Regions from separate parts of the Homo sapiens genome. Here all the other regions are linked to region 1. Evidence: fine-mapped expression QTL. A gene starts in region 1. Each other region holds a variant in brackets. All regions are shown on one strand. Distances are between the middles of the regions.

Region 1 (5,102 bases):
CACGCTTGTAGCACTTTGGGAGGCCAAGGCAGGAGGATCATCTGAGGTCAGGAGTTTGAGACCAGCCTGGCCAACATGGTGAAGCCCCATCTCTACTAAAAATACAAAAATTAGCTGGGTATGGTGGCAGGCGCCTGTAATCTCAACTACTTGGGAGGCTGAGGCAGGAGAATCGCTTGAACCGGGAAGGCGGAGGTTGCAGTGAGCTGAGATCACAAAACTGCACTTCAGCCTGGGCAACAGAGTGAGACTGGTCTCAAAAAAAAAAAAAAAAAAAAAAAGATAAAGTGATCTTCACCCTTGGAGCTATGAAGGAACATATATAAACAATGGGAGCTTAAAGGAAAAATAAAACCAAATCGATCTTGGAATGCTTGTTATTGGGCTGCTGAAACCCAAGCCCTAGGGCAGCATTTCCCAAAAGAGTAAAAACCACAGCTCTCCAGTGCCTTTAGATATGGGAAAAAAGGAAGAAAGGACTCTAAGCAGAAAGAGATCAAACTTCAGAGAACCAGGCACTGGGGGCAGATCCTGGCCTGCCACAGAAACCAAACCACTCCCCGTTCTGAAAAAAAATCAGATTCCCCATTCTCAACTCCATTGCTTCTCAGTAAACGGCAGTCATGGAGAGAGAGCAAGAGACCCGGGCACGAGACCACACAGCCAGGTTGCAAGAATTCTCCCAATCTCAGCTCTGCCTGGGGTCTAGACTTCCCACACTAGCTGTGTCTATTTCAACTCAGGGACTCACAGCTGGTGAAGAAACCAAAGAGAAGTCAGGGTGAAGTGGATTTTTCACAGTGGACAAATTCCCCTTCTCTTCCCACCCAACTTGCAGTTGGCCTTATAAAACCTCTGTCACCCTCAATTTACAAGGCCAGCTGGCTCTCCCAGGCAGGAAGAGGGCTGGGAAGCCCTGCATTCATCTCCCTGGGGAGTCTGAGATGTAACTTGCCTGCACAGAGCTTTTCAGTTCTGGGCCAGTCTCATTCCCCTGAGGTTTTCTGGGCAAGCCCAGTAATAAGCCTGTTTCCTCTCCCACCGAGACCCCACAGAGCTGTCAGATTCTGGGGTTTAGGGTAGAGAGCAAGCCATGTGTGCTCAGACCACAACTGATGGAAGAATGGGGGCGGAAGAGAAGATGGGAATGAGCCAACTTCAAAAACTGCCCAGCTGGAGCTTCAGAGAAACATTGGTGGCAAAGGAAGGAGGACTGGTCAAGAGGCTCCAGTGTGGTTCTGGGAACTGGGAACCTAGCAGGACAGCTCGTTCCTGGGGCCTCCCAAAAGGGTAGCGGGGCGGCAGAATCGCCTAGCCCTCGTCGGCTTCCCCACTCGCCTCTGGCCCCTAAGCCCCCAGCCCTCACCCTGTTGCGGGTCACAGTATGGTTGAAGGTGTAGATGTTGACCAGCTCGCTGTTGACCTCGTCCACGTAGGTGCGCTCAAACTCGGCGTCTTTCTGCGAGACGTTCTTGGGCCCCAGAACCCCCAGATGGCTCTCGACCGAGGCCACCAAGAGCACCAAGAAGGGCAAGCCCAGAGCGAACATGGCCCCGGCAGGGCGGCAGTGGCAGCGGTGGTGGCGGCGGCGGCGGCGACAGGAGACAGGACACCTCCGGGACGGGTTGCGGCTGCGGCCGCAGCTTCCAGCATCTCACCAGGACCAGAACTTTAACCCCGGCCTGAGATTAGGAAATGTCCCCTCCCAAGAGCCCCGAAGAGGCTCCCAGGGTCCCCGCAGGGGAGGGGGCGGCCGGGAGGGGGCGGGGAGGGAGGGGATGCTGGCTACGGGAAGGGGTCCCAGCTCGCGAGGGGCTGAGTACGACCTGAGACCCTGGAGCCCCGGGCCAGGGCCGTGAGAAGGAGGGCGGCTGGTTGCCGGGAGCCTGGAGACGCCGGGAAAGGGGAGGGAGGAAGAGCCGGCGGCGGGGGCTGGCCGCGGAGGAAGGCGAGTCGCAGAGTGAGGGGCGTGATAGGTGGTAGCTACCCGACGCCGTGCTGGGCTGCGAGTTTTCCGAGGTGCGGGCCCTTTAAGGGCGGGCGGACGCGCCGTCCCGACGCACGAACACTGAAAAGTGAGCTGCGCCGCTGGGCGATAAACAGCAGGGCTGCTGGCCCGCCCGCTGACGTCAGGGGAAACTGACACAGATTTAAAGGACCAGGTCCCGCATTTGCCCTTAAAGGGGCTGCAGCTGTCTAGCTGAAGGGGAAAGCTTGCAATGCCTTCTCCAACTCCTACCCAACTCTCTCCCGTGATTTTCACCATCTCTGAAACTCACGTTGGAATAGGCAGATGTTTCTGTTAACAATCTCCAAGTGTTGGGTTCTTGCTGAACAACTCTTACATTTGCTCAAACATAAGGATTCCCCCACCCCCACCACCACCTTTACAACTAACATCGTCCAACCCTGGGCCACTTTTTCTCCGGGGATCTTAAAAAATGAAAAACTCGAAGGATTAGGAAACAGGACGGTGGCCCTACCGGCGGAGGGGAAACGGAGGCAGCACTGCAGGAGGAATCCCCATGCCTTTCCCACCTCCCTCTAGAGGGGCCACACAACTGCAGGGACGGCCTTCCGAGCTTTCCAAGCTTGCCGGGCTGTTTCCCCTCTTCTCTCAGAGACAGTTACAAAACTCATTGAAAGATACTGACCTTCAGTGTAAATTGGTGAAAACTTTTCTACAAAATATTTTGGCACTGTTTCAAGAAACTTAGAGAGCTTTATACCCTTTGATCCAGTAATTCCACTTCTGGACTCTATCCTAAGGAAATAGGAAGCACAGATAAAAATACCTGGGCAGCTACGCTTATCACTGTGATATTTATAATATAAAGCAAAAAGGAAATGACTTGGATATCCATAATGAGGGATTGGTTAAATGCACTATCATGAAGGCATCAAAAATGATGCTTAAGACTTCACAGGACACGTAAGCAGAGAATTCAGGATATGACACTAAATAAACAGTATATAGAGCCAGGTGCCGTGGCTCACACGTGTAATCCCAACACTTTGGGAGGCCAAGACAGGTAGATCACTTGAGGTCAGGAGTTCGAGACCAGCCATGGCCAACATGGTGAACCCCATCTCTACTATAAAAATACAAAATTAGTGGGGCGTGGTGACGCGTGCCTGTAATCCCAGCTACTGGGGAGGCTGAAGCAGGAGAATCGCTTAACTCTACCAGGCGGAGGTTGCAGTGAGCTGAGATCATGCTCCTGCACTCCAGCCTGGGCTGCAACAGAGCAAGACTCTGTCTCAAAAATAAATAAGTAAATAAAACCGTATATATTCCAAATGCATATAGACATGCATAGAAAAATAGAAAAAAATTGTACTAAACATTTAGCAATGTCTCCAGAAAGCAGGGCAAATTTTAAAAATAAAATTTAGCAGTAGTTATCTTTGAATTACAATTTTAAAAATAACACATATTGTATATCATTTTCCTTTAATTCTAAAAATATAGAGTAGTACCAAAAAATAAAAAATAATGGATTGTGAGTGGTTCTTAAATTTTATTTTTTATATTTAAAAAGATTTACAAATGTTCTACAATGTATATATATTTATATATTGCTTTTTTATCTGCCGGGGGGTGGAGACAGGGTCTCGCTCTGTTGCCCAGGTTGGAGTGCAGTGGCACAATCTCAGCTCATTGCAACCTCTGCCTCCTGGGTTCAAGCAATTCTCCTGCCTCAGTCTCCCGAGTAGCTGGGATTACAGGCCATGTGCCACCACGCCCAGCTAATTTTTGTATTTTTGGTAGAGACGGGGTTTCACCATATTGGTCAGGCTGGTCTCGAACTCCTGACCTCAGGTGATCCACCCACCTCAGTCTCCCAAAGTGCTGGGATTATAGGCATGAGCCACCATGCCTGGCCACATATATTGCATTTATAAGACAAATTAGACTTTTTTTTTTTTTTTTTTTTGAGATGGAGTCTCACTGTCACCCATGCTGGAGTACAGTGGTGTGATCTCAGCTCACTGCAATCTCCGCCTCCTGAGTTCAGGCGATGCTCCTGCCTCAGCCTCCCAAGTAGCTGGGACTACAGGCACCCGCCACCACACCCTGCTAATTTCTTGTATTTTTAGTAAAGCGGGGTTTCACCATATTGGTCAGGCTGATCTCGAACTCCTGACCTCGAGTGATCCACCCACCTAGGCTTCCCAAAGTGTTGGGATTACAGGCGTGAGCCACTGCGCCCGGCCAAATTAGACATGTTTAAAGGAAAAGAAATGTGGCCACCTCTGAAGCTGTCAGACATCCTAATAAAGCCACCCAGATCAGTGCCTTGTCAGAGTTCTCTCAGCTGGCAGGATTGCAGCAGTCTCAGCTCCCAGCCCTGCCCAACTATCTGGAGCCTTGTTCCAATGAAGACTATTTTACCTTATGATCAGTTAGTTATATTTACTCATTCCTGCAATAAATATTTAATAAGCATCCACGATGTGCCAGGTACTGTTGTAGTTATGCTGGGCAAATGGTGAGTGGAGGAATTAGTTTTGGCCCCTGTCCAAGCACAGCATACTTGAGGATGAAGACCAGAAGCAAGCTGCACCCCTTTTCCAAAGGGTTCACCAATTAGAAAGTCAGCTGGAAGATAACCTTATGGGTTTCCTTGGCCAACCCCTCATTATACAGATGAGGAAAGTGACGCTCAGAAAAACTTCAGCCCATTAGTACCTCACTAGACTCAAGTTTGCACCTTGGTCCAGTACTGTTTCCAGCACATCTAGGCGAATATGAATCAGAGAATCCTCAGGATGGCAAAAGAGGTTTCTTCATCATGAGCCCTCCATGCAGTCAGCTGCCAAGTTTGGAGAATCAGTGTAGGATTTCCTCAGTCCATCTGGACTTTTCTTTCATGGTAATCCTGCTCATCTTGCCAGTAAATAATCTGAAACATTAAGAAACACTCGTGATACATTGCCCAGGCTGGTCTTGAACTCCTGGCTTCAAGCGATCTGCCACAGCCTCTCGAGTAGCTGGATTACAGGCAAGCACCACTACTCTAAGTTGGCCTCATAACTTTGGGGCAAGATGTGACCCTACGCCTGTTTTAAACGCACATCCAGAGTCCTACTTCACACTT
Region 2 (5,102 bases), 130 kb before region 1:
AAAGGATGTTATCTCATTTTGATATTATGAGCATCACTGACCAAACATAGGATAATAAGGTAACTGTTAGGAGTGAAATTTGGTGATAGTCAATTCAGTTTAACAGATATTTGTTGAGTACTTGCCTACTGTGTGTAGAAGAGAAAAATAATGCCATAGTCTTAGCCCTTGGACAGCTCACAATCTGATGTGAGACATAGACATAATACCTAAATATTACACAAAACCAAATGCATTTGGTACAAATAGTGAAACAGTGGATCTTGGAAGTGCACAGAGAGAAGCAGCTACTTCTGACATGGTATTAGGCACAGCTTGCTGGAAAAGGAGGGTTTTGTTTTGTTTTTGTTTTTGAGAGGGAGTCTCGCCCAGGGATCCACCCGCCTCAGCCTCCCAAAGTGCTGGGATTATAGGCGTGAGCCACCGCGCCCAGCCAAAACGGAGGTATTTGAAAGAGGAGAAAGCTTTGCAATATGGAGAGTGGTGAGGAGGAGCACTTCATGAAGAAAAGCGTGAACTGTGGTGAGAAGCCAGAAGGCATGGTGGGGATGCCATGGGGCTGACAGGACTTTGGGTTTTATTCTGCAAACAGTAAGGAATCCTTGTAGGTATACGAGAAGAGGGATGATATCGTCTAATTTTAGTTCCAGGAAAACAGCTTCAGTGTGCAGAATAACTTGGAGAGTCTAGCATCATGACTCTAGACATGCAAACAAGGATCTCAGGATACGGGGGCCTGAAAGAGGATGGTGGCAGTGAGGGTAGAAAGGAGGAATCAGCATTCATCCATCGTTTAACCAGTTATTCTCTGCGCTTGATGAGATGTATGGGGTGAGAGAGAGGGAAGAGGAGATGATGGCTTTATTTAACCTCTCTGACTTTTTGTCAGGGAACAAAGCAACAGGGGAAAGCTTTTGAAGCACAATATAGTTTTTTTGTTTGTTTGTTTGTTTTGAGATGGAGTTTCGCTGTGTCACCCAGGCTGGAGTGCAGTGGCGCGATCTCAGCTCACTGCAACCTCCACCTCCTGGTTCAAGTGATTCTCCTGCCTCAGCTTCTCAAGTAGCTGGGATTACAGGTGCCCGCCACCACCCCCAGCTATTTTTTTTGGTATTTTTAGTAGAGATGGGGGTTTCACCATGTTGGCCAGGCTGGTTTCAAACTCCTGACCTCAAGTGACCGCCCGCCTCAGCCTCCCAAAGTCTTAGGATTACAGGTATGAGCCACCGCACCCAGCCAGGAAGTACAATATAGTTTACCAAAGTTTATGTTTATTATTCTGCTTTAATTATAAGGGATAGGTATTAGCATATCTATTTCAGGGATAAGGAAACTGAGACCCAGAGAGACTAAGTGTCTTGTCCAAAGTGATTCTGTTAAGAAGAACAGAGTAGGGGTTCAAATACCGGGGCCTTTCCTTCCTGTGTTCTACGATCTGGGACATGCCTTTGAGATGCTAGTGGGTCATCCTCGTGGAAGTATTCAGCCACCAGCTGACAGTGGGAATCTGGAGAGAAGTTAGAACTGGACAGGCAGACAGGACTCATCCACAGAGAGGCCAAGTTAAAAAATAGACTTGTTCTTTGAGGGAACAGAGAGGGAAAGGAGAAAAATGATTAGGAAAAGAATATTAGGTATAGACAAGGGAGCAAGAGAAAATGATCAGAGCAGTAGAAAACTATGAGGGCTCAGAGTCTCAGAAACCAAGAAGGACCAGGTGGTTTTTCTTTTTTTCCTCTCCTTCCCTGCTTGGCAGGGTTCTGTAAAGGGACCTCAGCGGTGAGGGAGAAGGCTGGGAGCAGTCAACACTCTAGATCCCCGCCCTTCCTGTCACCAAGCCATCCCCATCCCCCCGCCCCAAATCTCCTGAGCATCCCAGGATAACTTTGCTTTTATTGTTTTTATACAGTGGACTTCTGGGTTATATTTTTTTAAAAAAGAGTTTTTGCAATAAAAAGGTTGAAAACCATCGAGCTCAAAGAACCACCCTCCAAATTAGACAAAGCCAGCAAGACCCCGGCTCCATAAGTTGCCTACCCAGTCCCTGCCACCACAACTGGCTTTCCTGGATTGGGCCTCGGGTTGCACACAAGCCCTTGCTGGAGCACTCATCCTGTCATTCCAAACCTCTCCTCTACTCCCCAGACCAGTAAAGAAGAGTTTAGCTGGGAGTGAGGGGGCATTGAGAAAGACTGTGCTCTCTCTAAAAGCACTAAGGTGGAAGGTCAGGAACCCTTCTTGGGCCTCTCCAATAAAGGGCTGGGCAGAAAATTCCAGTTGAAAATCCAGAAAGAGGCCAGGCACAGTGGCTCACACCTGTAATCCCAGCACTTTGGGAGGCCGAGGCAGGCAGATCACCTGAGGTCAGGAGTTCAAGACCAGCATGGCCAACGTGGTGAAACCCTGTCTCTACCAAAAATACAAAAATTAGCTGGGCATGGTGGCACGTGCCTGTAATCCCAGCTAATCAGGAGGCTGAGGCAGGAGAATCGCTTGAACCCAGGAGGCGGAGGTTGCAGTGAGCCAACATCATGCCACTGCACTCCAGCCTGGGCGACAGGGGGAAGACTCCATCTCAAAAAAAGAAAATCCAGGAAGAGAAACACCTCCCAGGGAAGCCCCCATACCTAATGACTAACTTCTGTCTCTCCTGGGAGCCTTCTCTTTCAGGTGCCTGGGCAGGGGAGAGTTCTGGGAAGGAACCAGAACATTTTCTGAGTTCTGGAGCTGCCCTGAGATTCTCCTGGCAGGATGCGACAGCACCTGAGTACATCCTTAGTACCGCAGCCTTGGGTACTATAGCCAGGTGTTTCCCAAAATA[G/A]GAGAGCTGGGCTGTGCTGGGGAGAATGAGGAAATCAGCAGAACTGGGGGGATTCTGACGTGGGGGAGCTGGGACTCCTAGGTCCTTTTCCTCAAAGCAAACTGGCCAAGCTCTGCCTCCTCCCATGCCAACTTATCCTCTGTCACCATATTTCCTGAGCTGCTGTCACTCTGGGGCCACCCTCTCTGCTGCGCACTGTAGGCTGGGTGTCCTCTTGCTTGGTCTTTCAAGGTCAGTGAATCTCATCACTTAGCCTTTTTTCTTTTTTTTTCTTGAGACAGGGTCTCACTCTGTTGCCCAGGCTGGAGTGCGGTGGCGCGATCTCGGCTCCCTGCAACCTCCACCTCCTGGGTTCAAGCAATTCTCCAGCGTCGGCCTGCCAAGTAGCTAGGACTACGGGCACGCACAACCACACCCGGCTAATTTATATATATATTTTGGTAGAGACGGGGTTTCACTATGTGGCCAGAATGGTCTCAAACTCCTTGACCTCAAGTGATCCGCCCACCTCAGCCTCCCAAAGTGCTGGGACTACAGGCGTGAGTCACTGTGCCTGGCCCTACCACTTACTCTTTTCCAAGGCCTGTGGAGGTTTTGACAGGTAGGACAAGGAGTGAGTTCTAGCATCTCCCAATGGCTTGAATAAACAAGCCCATGTGCTGAGCGTGACACAGGTGCCATGGTCAGCTTCATTTTCAACTGAGGACAGAGCAAGAGAAGATTCAAGCCACTGTAACCTGTGGGTGGGACAAGGTTAAATAACAGGAAGGACTTACTGTCTGACCATGAAAAACAGGTGGCGAATAGCTGCTGTGATACCTTGTGGAGCATGGGTTTTCCAGGTGGGTTCCGCAGAGGCTAAAGGTGCTGAAGAGATGCCTCAAGAGCCAGCACAGGCAGGGGAGGGAAGCAGAGGAAATCAAACCTCCCCTTCAAACAGAACACCTCTGTCTTTTTCTCTCTTGTACACTAGGATCCTGCATACAATTGGAAAAGGGGAAAAGGATTCCGCTGCTTTATTTTTTATTTTTATTTATTTATTTATTTTTGAGACGGAGTCTCACTCTGTCGCCCAGGCTGGAGTGCAGTGGTGCGATCTGGGCTCACTGCAAGCTCCGCCTCCTGGGTTCACGCCATTCTCCTGCTTCAGCCTCCCAAGTAGCTGGGACTACAGGCGCCTGCCATCACGCCCGGCTAATTTTTTGTATTTTTTAGTGGAGACGGGGTTTCACCGTGTTAGCCAGGATGGTCTCGATCTCCTGACTTTGTGATCCGTCCGCCTCGGCCTCCCAAAGTGCTGGGATTACAGGCGTGAGCCACTGCGCGCGGCTGATTCTGCTGCTTTAGAAAAAAAAAAGTTTGAAAATTACTGTCATAAACTCTTGGACCATCGACATCCATCATTCTATTGGAGTAGGAGGCACTGGCAAATATTAGTTGAGCCGGGTTACAGGCTGCGGAGAAATGGGGCATCCCATCCAAAGGGGGAAAGGTATACTAGATAAGGTTTGGGGCGACCCAGCCACATTGGGACTCCTTGAAAAACCAGCCAGAGGTGGGGTAAGTGGCGCCAGGGAGCCTGCTTGCTCCCAGGTACCAATGGCCAGCTACAGCCAGGAGAGGCAAGTGGAAGGCAGAGGAACTAGCTGGGAAAAGGAGTCCATTTGCACAGGGCTGGCTGATTTGTTCAAGGTGGGAGGAACCTGGACAGGACCCAGTCGCTGGACTCTGAGACAGGAGCTGTGTGCTCTGTTGGCCATAAGCCCCTCCCCGCTGCTGACTTTAGGCTCCTCTTGTCCTTCCTTGCCCCCTTTTCTCAGCCTTGGGTAAGCTCAGGTCTGGAAATCACTTAGGAAAAGCAGATGAAGCTGACTCACAAGGTTCTGGGACTAAGGAGGCCTGGAGTCACTATAACTGCTCTAAGAACCACAGGACCCTGGGTGGATATTCACCAACATGGTGAAACCCCGTCTGTACTAAAAATGCAAAAATTAGCTGGGCGTAGTGGCGGGTGCCTGTAATCCCAGCTACTCGGGAGGCTGAGGCAGGAGCCAAGATTGCACCACTGCACTACAGCCTGGGTGACAGAGTGAGAACCCACCTCAAAAAAAAAAAAAAAAGAATAGGAAGAGTCCATAGGGTCATAGGAATTAACTGCAGGGAATGAGGCAGTTGCTGTCAATTAAAAAAAAAATCATTACGGAGCATCTACTCAGGGCTAGGTAACAATTAGGTAATAAGCAATACAAATGCTCCCTACCCTTGGTGGAGCTCATAGTCT
Region 3 (5,102 bases), 30 kb before region 1:
CCACCCTCAACCTCCTGAGTAGCTGGGACCACAGGTGCTTACCACTATATCCAGCTAATTTTTTATTTTTTTGTAAAGATGATGTCTCCCAGGCTGAAGTTATCCTCCACCATGCCTGGAGTGAGCCACCATGCCTGGCCTGGAATAAATTAATGGAAGAAAGGGTGCTTTAAAAAGAATTGTATTCGGCCGGGTGCAGTGGCTCACGCCTGTAATCCCAGCACTTTCGGAGGCTGAGGCGGGTGGATCATAAGGTCAAGAGATTGAGACCATCCTGGCCAACATGGTGAAACCCCATCTCTACTAAAAATACAAAAATTAGGTGGCCATGGTGGCGTGCACCTGTAGTCCTAGCTACTTGGGAAGCTGAGGCAGGAGAATCGCTTGAACCCAGAAGGCAGAGGTTGCAGTGAGCCAAGATCATGCCACTGCACTCCAGCCTGGCAACAGAGAGAGACTCTGTCTCAAAAAAAAAAAAAAAAAGAATCGTTCTCATTACAGCCTAATTTCTTAATAGTCCCCAGTTGAGTCTTCCTCTTCAGTAGTTTTTTGTTTTTGTTTTTGTTTTAATAATTGTAGATTTACAGGAGGTTTCAAAGAAATGTACAAGAGAAGTCCCGTGCACCCTTCTCCCAATCTTAATGTTTCACACAATTAAAGTATAATATCAAAACCAAGAAATTGACATTGGTACAATCCATAGAGCTTATTTGGAGTTCACCAGATACACATGCTGTCAATATTTGTGTATGCGCGTGTGTAGCTGTATGCAATTGTATCACATGTAGCCTTGCATAACTACCACCACAACCAAGATCCAGAACAATTCCATTATCACAAGACTCCTTTGTGTTACCCCTTTCTGGCCACACCCATCCCCTCCCCTGTCCCTGGCCCCTGGCACCCATTTATCTGTTATGTATCACTGCAGGTACTTCAATTAACATCACCTAAATGGAATTGTGTGCTACGCATCCTTTTTCTTTTTTTTTTTTTCTTTGAGACAGGGTCTTGTTCTGTTGCCCAGGCTGGAGTGTGGTAGCATGAGCATGGCTCACTGCAATCTCCACCTCCCAGGCTCAAGCGATCCTCCCACCTCACCCTCCCCGGTAGTGGGACCACAGGTGCACACCACCACACCTGGCTATATGCTTCTTTTGAGATTGCTTTTTTCACTCACATAATTTGCTTGAAATTTATCCACCAGCATTTTTTAAAAATTAACTGTGCATCATCTTCAGTGAGATGTGTGCATTTCGTCTTTGTTCATGCCTTTTCCACTGCCTAGAATGCCCTCTACCAACCCTGTCTACCGATCTGTATTCATTTCCTTCAGTGTGTCTCACTGCTGTGTGCCTAAACCCATCTGACTTATTTCTCTTCCCTTATCAATTATGTATATTTCCCATACCATATCATTTTCCACTTGCAGGTAGGAGGCAGGGACCACGCCCATCTTATCTTTATATTCCCAGCATCTAGTACAGTGCCTGAAATGGAGGAGGTACCCAGTAAATAATGTTTTGGATGAATGAATGATTGAAGTTGCTCTGCTGGATTCTTATATTGTGTCTTGGGTATGTGTCGTCTTCCCAACTGCACTCGAAGCTACGTTGTAAACTTGAGAGCAGCAGCTCCATTCCATTTACTAGTATAGGCGAGGTCCCAGTTAGGGTTGCCGTAGATGTTTGTATGTGGCTTCAGTGAGCGTGTGTCTTTGTGTACGTGGGGGTGAAGTGAAGGCGTGTTTGTGGGCTGGTTTCCCAGCTGCCCAGCCTGACTTTCTACAGTCAGCAGGATGGACCTGGAGATGTCAGGGCTGAAGACCCTGGAGCATGTGGCAGTGACAGTCTCCATCACTCACCCACGGCGCGGCAGCTTGGAGCTGAAGCTGTTCTGCCCCAGTGGCATGATGTCCCTCATCGGCGCCCCCCGCAGCATGGACTCGTATGTACACCCGCCCGAGGCCTGAGCAACCTTTTCAGCAAGGGCCTTTCCAGGGAAAAGAAATGGAAGAAGTGGATCCTGGCACTGTCCTAAACTACTGTGGCACTGGCTATCCCTGGCGGCTGGAAGCCTTTCGTCACATACCTTCTTCAAGCGCTAGGCCCTGCACCTCACATACATGTTCTCTAATCCTTCTAAGAACCCCCTAGATTAGACTTTGTAACCTCCTTTTACAAATGAGGAAACTGGCTGGGTGTGGTGGCTCACACCTGTAATCCCAGCACTTTGGGAGGTCAAGGCAGGAGAATCACTTGAACTCAGGAGTTCAAGACCAGCCTGGGCAACAAAGTGAGACCCTGTCTCTACAAAAAATTTAAAGATTAGCTGAGCATGGTGGTACATGCCTGTAGTCCCAGCTACTCAGGAGACTGAGGTGGGAGGATCACTTGAACCCAGGAAGTCAAGGCTGCAGTGAGCTGTGATCATGCCACTGCACTCCAGCTTGGATAACAGAGTGAGACCCTGTCTCCAAAAAAAAAAAGAAAGAAAAAGAAAACAAGTCATGGAGCTAGTAAGTGCCCAAGAGAACAAGAATAAACCTAGATCCGTGGGACTCCAAGCCTGTGCGCGCTCCATGCTTGCTTTTTCCACCACACCACGTTAACACAATTTCCTCCTTCCATGAGACCCCAGGGGAAAGGGGCACCTGAGAAGCCCTCGTGGCACCCTCCCAGGTTGTTTCCACGGCTACTACAGTAAGAAAGTGTTGCTGGGGGAAGGTCAGCTCTCTGGCCCACGCCTTCCACCTGTTTCTGCTGTGTTCTTTCCTCAGGGATCCCAACGGCTTCAATGACTGGACCTTCTCCACTGTGCGATGCTGGGGGGAGAGAGCCCGAGGGACCTACAGGCTTGTCATCAGGGATGTCGGTGAGTCTCGTGCCCTCACACCAGGCCCTACCTTTCCTGCTTGTTATCTGGTCCCTCTGCATCTCAGAGTCCCCACAGAAAGTGTCCCGTGTGCAATATATAGGGTTGCCATTGGACCAAGAGAGTTGATGCCAAGAGTGTGCCCATCCGTGAAATGGGCATTGCTCTCTGCAACTGTTCATTTATACTACCTCTCATATTCCCTGGAGGAGTGACCCATCCATCTTTCCTCAGGATAGCAACAAAAAGTCCTTGTCGAAACCACATTTCAAGTCCTTTTACGTATAACCATCCTTCGGCCAGCCCC[G/A]GTAGGCAGGTAAGGGCAGGACTCATTTCACCATTTTTTTTAAACTGGCCCAGAGGTTTGAGGTGACTTGTGGAAGGTCACCATATCAGTGAAGGCCACAATATCCATGAATTGTGAATATCTTTAGTATCAGCCTATAGACTGGAAATTGAGCTCCACCCTCCCATCCTCCAGTCAGTTAGGTATTCTCTAGGCCAGTGGTTTTCAAAGCTTTCTTTAATTTGGTGGAAAGACATTTTTTTCTAATCCCAGCTGAACCCCCAAAATACGGGAGAGAAAAGCAAGACTCTGCTTTGGAGTACAGCCTTTCAACCCTTTCCATCCCTAAGGGCACCCAGTGAGGCCCTTCTGCAGAACCTGGGGTCAGTGGGACACAGTGAGGCAGCTCCTGGAGCAGACCATGTGGCCTGAGCCCCTTTGGGTGGCAGGGCGGGCAGGGCCTCTGCTGTCTGGCATGGCTGACAGAGGGGCGTGGCTCACGAGCTGCCCCTTGCTGCCCTAGGGGATGAGTCATTCCAGGTCGGCATCCTCCGGCAATGGCAGCTGACCCTATATGGCTCTGTGTGGAGTGCAGTAGACATCAGGGACAGACAAAGGTGGGTAAAGCCGCATGTGTCAGAGGGAAGGCCAGTCACAGGGGAAGGGCCGCCTAGGGAGCCCATCGCCCTCTGAACCCCAGCTGTGCTTCCCAGTTCCAGCGTCAAGCCGGTAGATGGAGCCCCGGGCTGGGAACTCACAGTCTGGGCCTCTCCTTTTTGCTGTGGGGCTTCCCTGTCTTCACCTGTAAGGCAGGAAAATGGGTGAGGGCAGATGGTATAGGAACCATAGTCAGTGGGGCATCCTCACCTCTTTTCTTCTCCACAGGCTGTTAGAGAGTGCCATGAGTGGAAAATACCTGCACGATGACTTCGCCCTGCCCTGCCCACCGGGGCTGAAAATTCCTGAGGAAGATGGTTACACCATCACCCCCAACACCCTCAAGGTACTAGGGCCAAGACTCAAGCTGCGGGTAGATGGGACTGTCCTGTCTGGGGGATGGAGTTCTTAGTGTGTTTCTCAGGGTGACCTGCGGGGTGAAGGACTGGGAAGACCTGGGTCCCAGCAGTGGTTTCATAGCATTGCTCCTACCCTGCTAGCCTAACTCTTACAGGACAGGCCTTGTCGGGGGAGGGGGCAGAGGGAACAGTTTGGGTGAAAAAGGCAGTCCCTAGAAGGAAAAAGACTTTCTGAGCTCATTGTCCTGGGCTGAGAAAGGCTGTAGGCTTCGGGAAACAGTGCCTCACGTAGGTGCTTGCCTCGGCCCCAGACCCTGGTGCTGGTAGGCTGTTTCACCGTCTTCTGGACTGTTTACTACATGCTGGAAGTATATTTGAGCCAGAGGAATGTGGCTTCCAATCAAGTTTGTAGGAGTGGACCCTGCCACTGGCCCCATCGGAGCCGGAAAGCCAAGGAGGAAGGGACAGAGCTAGAATCAGTGCCACTTTGCAGCAGCAAGGATCCAGACGAAGTGGAAACAGAGAGCAGGGGCCCTCCCACCACCTCTGACCTCCTTGCCCCAGACCTGCTGGAGCAAGGGGACTGGAGCCTGTCCCAGAACAAGAGCGCCCTGGACTGCCCTCATCAGCACCTAGACGTACCGCACGGGAAGGAGGAGCAGATCTGCTGACCTCAGGGCCTGACAGTGTGGGACAGGCTCTTCTTTCCCAAAATTAGGGAGCTCTTGACAGAAAGCAGTTCTGATGCTTACATCTGGAATCTGAGGCATCCTCTGACTCCACTCAAAGAGGGTGAGGGCCTTCTTAAGATACAAATGGTGGAGGATTGCTGCCAGAGAAGTCTGGTCAGAGCCACAGGGTCTGCCTCCAGCCAAACGGGAGCTTTTGGTGAGAAGGTGTTGGACAGGGGATTGGCGCCCCCCTTT
Region 4 (5,102 bases), 190 kb after region 1:
CATGTCTGTTTCGTCACGGATGTGTAACTCACTCATGGTTGCTCCTCCTGATGTCTGTGTGCCACACAGTTCGGAAAAGGCACTTGCTTGGCTGTCACGCTGTAAGTTCCCTTTGTCATTTGTGACAATTGGTCTCTTTGCTGTACATCTTTTGGGATGAAGGATTGAGCTCTTGTAAAAGCATTTCAGAGGTTTTTCAGCTAATGATTTTTCCGCTCATTCTTTACTGTTTGGTTTCCTAGGCAACCCATCCTCCCCTTGCACCCTGCTGACGTCTGTTCAGCCCCTCTTCCTCTCCACTACCCCTCCCATTACTCAAGTTGTTTTTTCATTGCTGCTTTAGGATTGCACTAAAGGAATATACATGTTTTCCTAAATATCTGCTCCTCTATACTTTTTAGAATATATTAGAAGGATGGGAAGAAAAAAAATCATTTTTAGAAGCTAAGTAACCTGTATTTTTAGGTCAGTTATAACAGGGTTTCATCCATATAAGGCTAAATTTATTCTGTTGTTTCTAGGTTGGTTTTCTTTTTTAAAGTTAAACAATAATAAAGAAATTGTTGTCCATTTAAACCAGGAATTCCATAATTAAGCTATTTTAGGAATGTAAGGTGTTGTATAGGAAAAAACAGTCTGAAAATGGTGGGCATAGTTGCGTTTCTAGATGGTTATGCTGTGATTTATTTTTTTAAAAAATCAGTTGTGTCTGTTAAAAGCATTTCTGTTACTGTGGGGAGGGGTTTTTAAAGTTTTAAAAATCTAGCTTTTGGGTGAGTGCAGTGGCTCATGCCAGTAATCCCACCACTTTGGGAGGCTGATGTGGGAGGATCACCTCAGGCCAGGAGTTTGAGACCCATCTGGGCAACATAGTGAGACTCTGTTTATTAAAATAAAAATAAAAGTAGAAATAAAATAAAATAAAAATCTGTTTAGTTGTTGTTCACATTTGGTCCTTTAGAGATACTTTTTTGAGACAGAATCTCACTCTGTCACCCAGGCTGGAGAGCAGTGGCATGATCACGGCTCACTGCAGCCTCTATCTCCTGGACTTAAGTGACCCTCCCACCTCAGCCTCCCAAATAGCTGGGACTACAGGTGCATGGCACTATGTCTGGCTAATTTTTAAATTTTTCTGTAGAGATGAGGTCCCTCCATGTTGCCTAGGCTGGTCTTGAACTTTTGGGCTCAAGAGTCCTCCTGCCTTGGCTCCCCGAGGTGCTGGGATTATTATAGTCATGAGCTACTGCTCCTGACCTAGTGATAACTTTTTGAATTCCAATTCCTTGATCCTTTAGCATCCTAGGCAAAGACAACCATTTCTGCTGGGTAAAGCACAGTGAAAAGCCCTGCTTCTCTGTATACAAATGAAACAGATTGTACAATTAATATGTATTGGGTGCTGCATGGTCCATCCTAACAGTAGTGCTAATTGCCATATCATTTATTTTTACATTTGGAAGTATTTTACTTTGGCCTCAATGTAATTTTGTTTTTTTAATGCTGTAGAGTGTATGGGATATAGGTAAGGAGTGGATAAGAAAGGAAACAATAGAATCAGAAATAGTAAGAATTGCTATATAAATGCCTTTCCCTGTAAATGCACACAAATATATGAGGTGTTTTTTTTTGGGGGGGGGGGTCTTGCTCTGTTGCCCAGGCTGGAGTGCATTGGTAGGATCTTAGCTCACTGCAGCCTCCACCTCCTGGGTTCAAGCAATTCTCTTGCCTCAGCCTCCTGAGTAGCTGGGATTATAGGCGCCCACCACCACGCCTGGCTAATTTTTTGTATTTTTAGTAAAAATGAGGTTTCACCATGTTGGCCAAGCTGGTCTCGAACTCCTGACCTCAAGTGTTCTGCCCGCTTTGGCCTCCGAAAGTGCTGAGATTCCAGGTATGAGCCACCATGCCCGGCCACGAGTTTTTTGTATGTATGTCTAAATACGTAGAAAGACAAGATTTACCCCCTTTTTTGGTGTCTGTAATAAATTTAGTGATATACGTGTATGGGTGTATATGTATATAGATATGTATGCTATGAGTTAGAAATGAAAAACCTGCCATAAAAGCAAGAGGAAGGAGGAGTTAATTTTGCCTGAAGATGTCAGAGAAGGCTGCATTGAAAAAATTTGCCATAGACCTGGTGATAGGAGATTGAATGGGCCTTACTAGCTGTGTATAGTGGTTTGTACCAAAAAGTATGGGGATAGGAGGGGAAAGTGGCTGGGAATATTGGAAAATCTAGTTGAAAGATAGGTTGAAGGCCGATTGTGAAATAGTTTCACTTACTTTATCATTTAAGTAATAGGTTGGTTAGACCTTTTAGATCAGATCAGTATTTTGAGAGTATCTCTAATAGTATAGAATTATTTGTACTTCTTGACTGAAACTATATGTTAAATAATGAATTTGTAACTTAGTTATTAGAGTGTTCAAATTATACCTGTTTCTCTCCCTTCCCTCAATTTTTAGAAAGCATTCTCTAATGAGGCAGGGGTTTTTGTTTGTTTTGAGACAGCGCCTTGCTCTATTGCCCATACTGGAGCGCAGTGGCATGATCTCGACTCACTGCAACCTTCGCCTCCCGGGTTCAAGTGATTCTCATGCCTCAGCCTCCCTTGTAGGTGAGATTACGGGCGTGTGCCACCATGCCTGGTTAATTTTTGTATTTTTGATAGAGACGGGGTTTTGCCATGTTGGCCAGCTGGTCTCAAACTCCTGGCCACCTTGGATCCGCCCACCTTGGCCTCCCAAAGTGCTGGGGTTACAGGCATGAGCCACCATGACCAGCCAAGGCAGGTTACTTTTATATTGGTTAAAAGAGTGCCTGATATTAAATCCTTAGTCTCCCACTAACCAGCTCTCTCTCTGACCTTGGATGAGCCTTAAACTT[T/C]GGTTTAATTCATTTGTAAAACAAGCATAATAATGCCTACCTGAAAGAACTGTTGTGAGGATTTGATTGAACGGGATAATATGTAAAGCACAGCTCTTGACACACTGTAAATGTAGCTGAAAAATAGTAGTGATTATTTTGTGGTAACAGCTTTCATTGTAGAAGAAAATTAATGGAATGTGAAGGATTAATGATTTTGGGAGGTGGAGGGGAGGAGACCTTGTTAAGTAGATTAATTAGGAAGTTATTGGTTTGTCCAAACAGTGCTTTTAGGTGACAAGGGAATTCAGTGTGGAAGAGGAGGTTTGGTAGGAGAAGAAAATATAATCAGTTTAGTTGTAGATGGGTTGAGTTTAAGGTACCCAAGGACACAAAGGTAATACTGTGGAGGTGGCTGTTGGAAATACGAAGCCTGGAGGTACGAATGTGGAAGTTATTGCTGTCTGGTTGGAGATACTTGTGTCTGGGAAGAGTGATCGAGTGAGTAGTGGCCTATTAATGTTTTCTTTTTTTAAAAAATTTACTTTCAATATACTGCCAATAAAGTAATTTGCACTGTTATACTAAGGTATTAGACCACGTATTCTGAGTTCAGATTTGTTGCTTGACTCGTTAATGTATGTAGGTTATACCCAGTTTTGGTAAGCCTCCTGACCTTTGGCCCCATTCACAGCATTATCTCTATCTCTCAAAGGGAAAAAGAAGTTCATTCTTTGAACTGGGGAGTGCTCTGATGTTGGCAGGTCTACTCCTCCTCAGGTCTAGACACTCTTGGCCTCCACAGTGGTTTTATTCAGGAAAGTTCTCACCTTTGAATTGTAGACTTAGTGCAGACTTGCTGGTAGTTGGCTAGGCGGGATCACAACAGTGATTGGTATTGGTAAGTACATGTATTGCTGCCAAGAAGTTGCATAGTTCATGTGTTCAGTCATAGCCTTTTCTTTATATGACGACCCCGCTGAAATACAGAATGGCCTGCTGCCTTCTCACAGAAGGTCTACTGTTCCAAGCTTATTTTTTTCTGAGTGAGAAGAAAAGGTCTTTTGCCACTGTTTTCAGACTGAAATTTAAATTTCAGCTGCCTTGGATCCTATATAATAAAAGATTGAGACACAGAAATTGTTCTATTAGACTTGAAATTTCAATTGCTTTTACTTCCCAGTTTGTAGTAGTGTTTGAACCTAAAATCCTATGTGTGTTTTTAGTTACCTTTTCAAGTTAAACTTTCAGAAACTATCTGCTTAACTTAAAAATTTACTCTTGTTAATTGCCCAACCACATCTTACTTCATGTGTCAAAATCTGCCTGATATTTTTAATTTGGAAGTCCACAGTAGTGGGAAGTCATAGGAACTCCCAGTCAGGGTATTCACAGTAACTACTCACAGTAATAGGAACTCACAGTCAAGTCTAATTTTTCATTTTAATTTTTCCAATCCCTTCTTTACTTCTAGTATACTAATTGAAAAAAAAAAACTTGGGTTGCCTTTAGTTTCAATTTATAATTTTTATTAGGATTTTACTGATACTGTATCTTTTTGGTACTGGAGGTCTCAGAGGACTGACCTGGTTCTACTTGTTTGCTCTTGGGATTTAGAACGATAGTTTCTATTGTGTTGAGCCAGCAACATTTTGCTTATTTTCAAGAGGCAGAGTGGCAGAGTACTAAATTGCAAGGTTGTGCAGACCTTAAATAAGTGTATGGTGAGCTATAAAGTTACAATGTTAAATTAGTTTCTGGCTGGCCCACATTGTTTCCAAAGTTGACTTTGCATTTTAAAAGACCTTACTGATTTAAAAAGCGAATAGAGAACTGCTTGGAAACACATATCATCTGAGAGACATTCGAACATGCGGGGAAAAAAAAAAGTGGAAGGAAAGGTGCTGCTGGCTGGGCATCATAGACTAGAAAGCTGCATTTAAAGTTTAAACTGCTTGGGTAAGACATGTTTTCCTGGTTTATCCTCATGTTTTTTTCCATCTGTGTTCTCTTGCCATTATTACCACCAAATACAGGAGAATACTCCTTTACTTATTGTAGTCTTATTTGGGAGACAGACTAGAGTGTGGATTATGTAGGGACAGAAAGGGAGACTTGAGGGTTTTTTTTTGTTTTGTTTTGTTTTTTCTTCCAGTATTTAGGTTCATTGATGTACAGGGCATATGTTGTCTTCTTTTAGATTTTTCAGTGAAGTTTTGTACTCCTCTCC
Region 5 (5,102 bases), 73 kb after region 1:
AAAAGGCACTGTCATCATTTTTTTTAACAGACCACAGACACTAGTATATTCTAATATTTGGAAAGACAACTGGCTTTGGAGATCAGCAGCCTTGGAATTACATCTCAGCTTCACCACTTACTGGCTGTAGGAGCCAATCATCAGATAGATAAAGTAAGTTGACCATCTATAAAGTGGGGATAACAACTACGTTATGAAATTTGAGAGTAAGAATGTTTTCATTGGACATGCAGAGTTGCATCACAAACACAAATATATCCACATTCCACAGATTGAACTATGCATGTTTAGTAAACCAAATCGAAACATTTAAACCACAACTTTCTTTTAACTCTGAAGTTAATCCATTTTCACAGCCCTAATTCTATTCTCAATCATTCCTAATCTTTTGAAAGTGATTTGGAAACCAGTATGTTATTGTTTACCTACTTTTGGAATTTAGAGGGAGGATGTACGAGGCTCTAATCTAGGTCCCTTTACATATTTATAAGTTAATTCTCCTAACGACCTCATTAGGTAGGAGTGATTTTCCAGAGAAGATAACAGACCTGGCTCTTAAATGTGCCAAGTGAATGAAATTATTTTTTAAATAAAAATAAATGGAAATAACTTCATCCTTAGTTTTTTTTCTTAAGCAGAGTTTCCCTCTTGTTGCCCAGGCTGGAGTGCAATGGTGCAATCTCGGCTCACTGCAACCTCCACCTCCCCGGTTCAAGCAATTCTCCTGCCTCAGCCTCTCCAGTAGCTGGAATTACAGGCACGCATCACCACGCCTGGCTAATTTTTTGTATTTTTACTAGAGATGGGGTTTCACCATGTTGGCCAGGCTGGTCTTGAATTCCTGACCTCAGGTGATCCACCTGCCTCAGCCTCCCGAAGTGCTGGGATTACAAATGTGAGCCACCACACCCAACCAAAAGACAAATTTTTTTTTAAGACAAGTGTGGTGGTATATGCCTACAGTCCCAGCTACTCAGGAGGCTGAGGTGGGAAGATAGCTTGAGCCTAGGAGTTGGAGGCTTCAGGGAGTTATGATTGCACCACTGCACTCCAGCCTGGGCAACAGAGCAAGACTCCGTCTCAAAAAAAAAAAAAAAAAAAGGCAGGCGTGGTGGCTCTAGCCTGTAATCCTAGCACTTTGGGAGGCCAAGGCGGGTGGATCATTTGAGGTCAGGAGTTTGAGACCAGCCTGACTAACATGGTGAAAACCACACCTGTCTCTACTAAAAATACAAAAATTAGCTGGGTGTGGTGGTGCACACCTGTGATCCCAGCTACTTGGGAGGCTGAGGCAGGAGAATCACTTGAACTCCGGAGGTGGAGGGTGCAGTGAACTGAGATCATGTCACTGCACTCCAGCCTGGGTGATAGAGCCAGATTCCGTCTCAAAACATACACACACAAACACACACAGCATGGACTGCTACTTAAGCCTAAAACACAATTGTAAGCCTACCCCACTGTACTTTCTTTTTTTTTTTTTTTTGAGGCGGAGTCTCACTCTTTCGCCCAGGCTGGAGTGCAGTGGTGCCATCTCGGCTCACTGCAGCCTCTGCCTCCCGGGTTCAAGCTATTCTCCTGCCTCAGCCTCCTGAGTAGCTGGGATTACAGGCGTGTGCCACCCCGCCTGGCTAATTTTTATATTTTTAGTACAGACGGGTTTCACCATGTTGGTCAGGCTGATCTCAAACTCCGGACCTTGTGATCAGCTCTCCTCGGCCTCCCAAAGTGCTGGGTTTACAGGCGTGAGCCACCGCGCCTGGCCCCCACTGTACTTTGTATTTGGCCATAAAGAAATCTAGCTTCCTGAAGCCAGCTTCCATTCGGATTCCAGCTTTCTGGCTCCTATACGGGTTTGTGGTTTTCAATGGCCTACAGTTTAAATAGAAAGGACTAGAAAGCCTTCCTTAGCAGAAAAGAAAAGGGAGTATTCGTTACGCATCATGTAGTTTAGGACTTCAACCAGAAGGTGTCTCTGCAGCCAAGGGATAGGAATCTGGCCTCAAGAAGTAGAAGACTGGATTTTCTAGTTTGAGAAAAATTGTGGCAGAAATGAAGCAAACAAAGGTAAGTCAGCTACCTACAGAAACCAATCCCAATAGTATAAATTGTTCTTAGCCAACAGCTGAAAAGGCTGGTAGAAAACTTAAGCAAAACCCACTTTTTTTTTTTTTTTTTTTGAGACAGGGTTTCACTTTGCTGCCCAGGCTGGAGTGCAGTGGTGTGATCACGGCTCACAGCAGCTTTGACCTCCTGGACTCAAGTGATTCTCCCACCTTAGCCTCCCAAGTAGCTGGGCCACAGGCATGCACCACCATGCCTGGCTATTTTTTTTTTTTTACTTATTTTTGAGATGGAGTCTTGCTCTGTTGCCCAGGCTGGAGTGCAGTGGGGTGGCGTGATCTCGGCTCACTGCAAACTCCACCTCCCGGGTTCAAGCAATTCTCCTGCCTCAGCCTCCCGAGTAGCTGGGATTACAGGCGCCCACCACCACTCCTGGCTAATTTTTTGTATTTTTAGTAGAGACGGGGTTTCACCGTGTTAGCCAGGATGGTCTCATCTCCTGACCTCGTGATCCGCC[C/T]GCCGTGGCCTCCCAAAGTGCTGGGATTACAGGTGTGAGCCACCGCGCCCAGCCTCCTGGCTAATTTTTTTTTTTTTTTTGAGACGGAGTCTCGCTCTGTCCCCCAGGCTGGAGTGCAGTGGCACGATCTTGGCTCACTGCAAGCTCCACCTCCCGGCTTCAGGCCATTCTCCTGCCTCAGCCTCCCGCGTAGCTGGGATACAGGCGCTGGCTGCCACGCCCGGCTAATTTTTTTGTAGTTTTAGTAGAGATGGGGTTTCACCGTGTTAGCCAGGATGATCTTGATCTCCTGACCTCGTGATCCGCCCGCCTCAGCCTCCCAAGTGCTGAGATTACAGGCGTGAACCACCGTGCCCAGCCCCTCCTGGCTAATTTTTAATTTTTTTTGTAGAGATGGGGGTTTTGCTATGTTGCCCAGGCTGGTCTTGAACTCCTGGGCTCATGCCGTCGTCTCACCTCAGTCTCACAGAGTGTTGGGATTACAGGAGTGAGCCACTGTGCCTGGCTCAAAACCGACCCTTAATGCAAGGAAGCTGCTTTAAAAGCAGAGCATCTGTCCTGTCACCTGAAACACACCAGGCTGTGTGAAGGTGAGCTTTGAAAACTGAGAGGCAGTTCCCAAGGCAGGTGCTGCAGAAGAGACGGCTCTTCCGTGAGAATAGATGTGAAGATGAAGGGAAAGAAGAAAAATGCAGTTTTGTAAGTGCAGAGCTAGGGAAATAAGGAAAACTTTCACCCTAGGTAGACCTTTGAAGTATGCCTTCATTTTCGGTGAAACATGGTGACTTTCTAGAATCTAGGTACACTTTGATATTCAAGGGAAAGAAAAGGATCCAAATATGTCAATATCTTAATCAATATTTGTTGAATATCATATTTTTTACTTAGGAGAAATAAGTAAATTATAAGACAAAAATTAGTAGTATAAATATTAGAGAGTTGATTACAGGGTAACAAGGGATCCTCCACCTTAAGGAACACACTTTTATTAAAAATGTTGTCCTGGCCAGGTGTGGTGGCTCACGCCTGTAATCCCAGCACTTTAGGAGGCCGAGGTGGGTGGATCACCTGAGGTCGGGAGTTCCAGACCAGCCTGGCCAATATGGTGAAACTCTGTCTCCACTAAAAATACAAAAATTAACTGGGCGTGGTGACGGGTGCCTATAATCCCAGCTACTTGGGACTTGGGAGGCTGAGGCAGGAGAATTGCTTGAACCAAGGATGTGCAGGTTGCAGTGAGCCGAGACTGCACCGCTATACTCCAGTCTGGGTGACAGAGCGTGACTCCATCTCAAAAAAAAAAAAAAAAAGTTGTCCTAGATGATTTTTTTTCTTTACTAAATGTATTTTGCCATTGATTTTTCTTATAAAACCAAAGGTATATTTGCCCAAGGAAGACATTGATCCCAAATGATAATACAGTCACATCTAAGGTTGAAGAAGACCTTTTGAAAATTATACTTGGCCAGTTCAGTGGCTCACACCTGTAATCGCAACACTTTGGGAAGCTGAGGCAGAAGGATTGTTTGAGACCAATAATTTGAGACTGGCCTGGGCAACATGGCAAGACCCTGTCTGTATAAAAACATTAAAAGATTAGCCAGGGCCGGGCGCGGTGGCTCACGCCTGTAATCCCAGCACTTTGGGAGGCCGAGACGGGCGGATCACGAGGTCAGGAGATCGAGACCATCTTGGCTAACACGGTGAAACCCCGTTTCTACTAAAAATACAAAAAATTAGCCGGGCGTAGTGGCGGGCGCCTGTAGTCCCAGCTACTTGGGAGGCTGAGGCAGGAGAATGGCGTGAACCCGGGAGGCGGAGCTTGCAGTGAGCCGAGATCGCGCCACCGCACTCCAACCTGGGAGACACAGTGAGACTCCGTCTCAAAAAAAAAAAAAAAAAAAGATTAGCCAGGCATGGTGGTGTATACATGTAGTCCCAGCTACTCGGGAGGCTGAGGCAGGAGGATCACTTGAGCCCAAGAAGTTGAGGCTGCAGTGACCTATGATAGCGCCACTGCACTCCAGCCTGAAGATGTTTTGGATTATTCAAAGGATAATTAATAATAATCTAAAAATGTTTCAACCATATCCTAGAACATATGCAAAGTAATAAGGGCAATTTTTATGTTTTGCATCACAGCTTGAATGGCTACATTAAAAAGAACAATGTGGGCAGACTGAACAGAAAGTCGTTGACTGAAAGCTTACTTAGCTTCCCTTATACAACCTACCTGAGATATTTTCTAGCAGGAGACTAAGTAGTTATCCTTGGCTGCTCAGACCTGCTTCGGATGCCCTGGGGAAATTGGGATGTGACCAGGTGGATCTGAGAAAGACGAGGAAAAAGGCAAAAGCCACACAGCTGAGGTGGTGATGCAGAACACAGTCTTTTTATTATTATTATTATTATTTGTGACAGAGTCTTGCTCGGTCACCCAGGCTGGAGTGCAGTGGTATGATCTCAGCTCACTGCAACCTCTGCCTCCCAGGTTTAAGCCATTCTTCTGCCTCAGCCTCCT

Direction of the effects. Alleles are on the strand shown, and positions count from the first base shown. SD is a standard deviation of normalised expression in the study named. Not every link is listed here.
As copies of A replace G in region 2, the expression in testis of the gene that starts at base 2,070 in region 1 goes up (small effect, 0.22 SD a copy in GTEx).
In carriers of allele A in region 3, the expression in activated naive CD4 T cells of the gene that starts at base 2,070 in region 1 tends to be higher than with G alone (large effect, 0.84 SD a copy in Schmiedel 2018).

Evidence for each region. PIP is the estimated chance that this variant, and not a neighbour inherited with it, causes the effect.
Region 2: its variant is the best candidate, but not a certain one, in a credible set for the expression of SIDT2 in testis (GTEx, PIP 0.61).
Region 3: its variant is the best candidate, but not a certain one, in a credible set for the expression of SIDT2 in activated naive CD4 T cells (Schmiedel 2018, PIP 0.52).
Region 4: its variant is the best candidate, but not a certain one, in a credible set for the expression of SIDT2 in whole blood (TOPMed, PIP 0.56).
Region 5: its variant is the best candidate, but not a certain one, in a credible set for the expression of SIDT2 in whole blood (TOPMed, PIP 0.56).

The regions. Positions count from the first base shown.
Region 1 is chr11:117,175,711-117,180,812 of GRCh38, reverse strand. SIDT2 (SID1 transmembrane family member 2) reads right to left here and starts at 2,070. Exons shown (of 26, transcript NM_001040455.2): 1 at 1,367-2,070. The coding sequence starts at 1,549. It also overlaps a transcript of PAFAH1B2 not described here. RefSeq lists an enhancer at 712-781 and a silencer at 1,762-1,971.
Region 2 is chr11:117,304,804-117,309,905 of GRCh38, reverse strand. The region is part of intron 1 of BACE1 (beta-secretase 1); the gene reads left to right. Among named protein-coding and RNA genes, the nearest start is that of BACE1, 8.9 kb to the left of the region's middle. The variant G/A (reference allele first, on the strand shown) is at 2,822.
Region 3 is chr11:117,205,742-117,210,843 of GRCh38, reverse strand. TAGLN (transgelin) reads right to left here. Exons shown (of 5, transcript NM_003186.5): 5 at 3,380-5,102. PCSK7 (proprotein convertase subtilisin/kexin type 7) reads left to right here. Exons shown (of 17, transcript NM_004716.4): 13 at 1,791-1,947; 14 at 2,780-2,874; 15 at 3,684-3,777; 16 at 4,046-4,163; 17 at 4,488-5,102. The coding sequence ends at 4,847. Among named protein-coding and RNA genes, the nearest start is that of TAGLN, 8.9 kb to the right of the region's middle. RefSeq lists enhancers at 1,353-1,853, 1,854-2,354, 3,195-3,825, 3,826-4,456, 4,457-5,087. The variant G/A (reference allele first, on the strand shown) is at 3,182.
Region 4 is chr11:116,988,856-116,993,957 of GRCh38, reverse strand. The region is part of intron 1 of SIK3 (SIK family kinase 3); the gene reads left to right. Among named protein-coding and RNA genes, the nearest start is that of SIK3, 110 kb to the left of the region's middle. The variant T/C (reference allele first, on the strand shown) is at 2,894.
Region 5 is chr11:117,103,031-117,108,132 of GRCh38, reverse strand. No RefSeq gene overlaps it. Among named protein-coding and RNA genes, the nearest start is that of SIK3, 7.2 kb to the right of the region's middle. The variant C/T (reference allele first, on the strand shown) is at 2,582.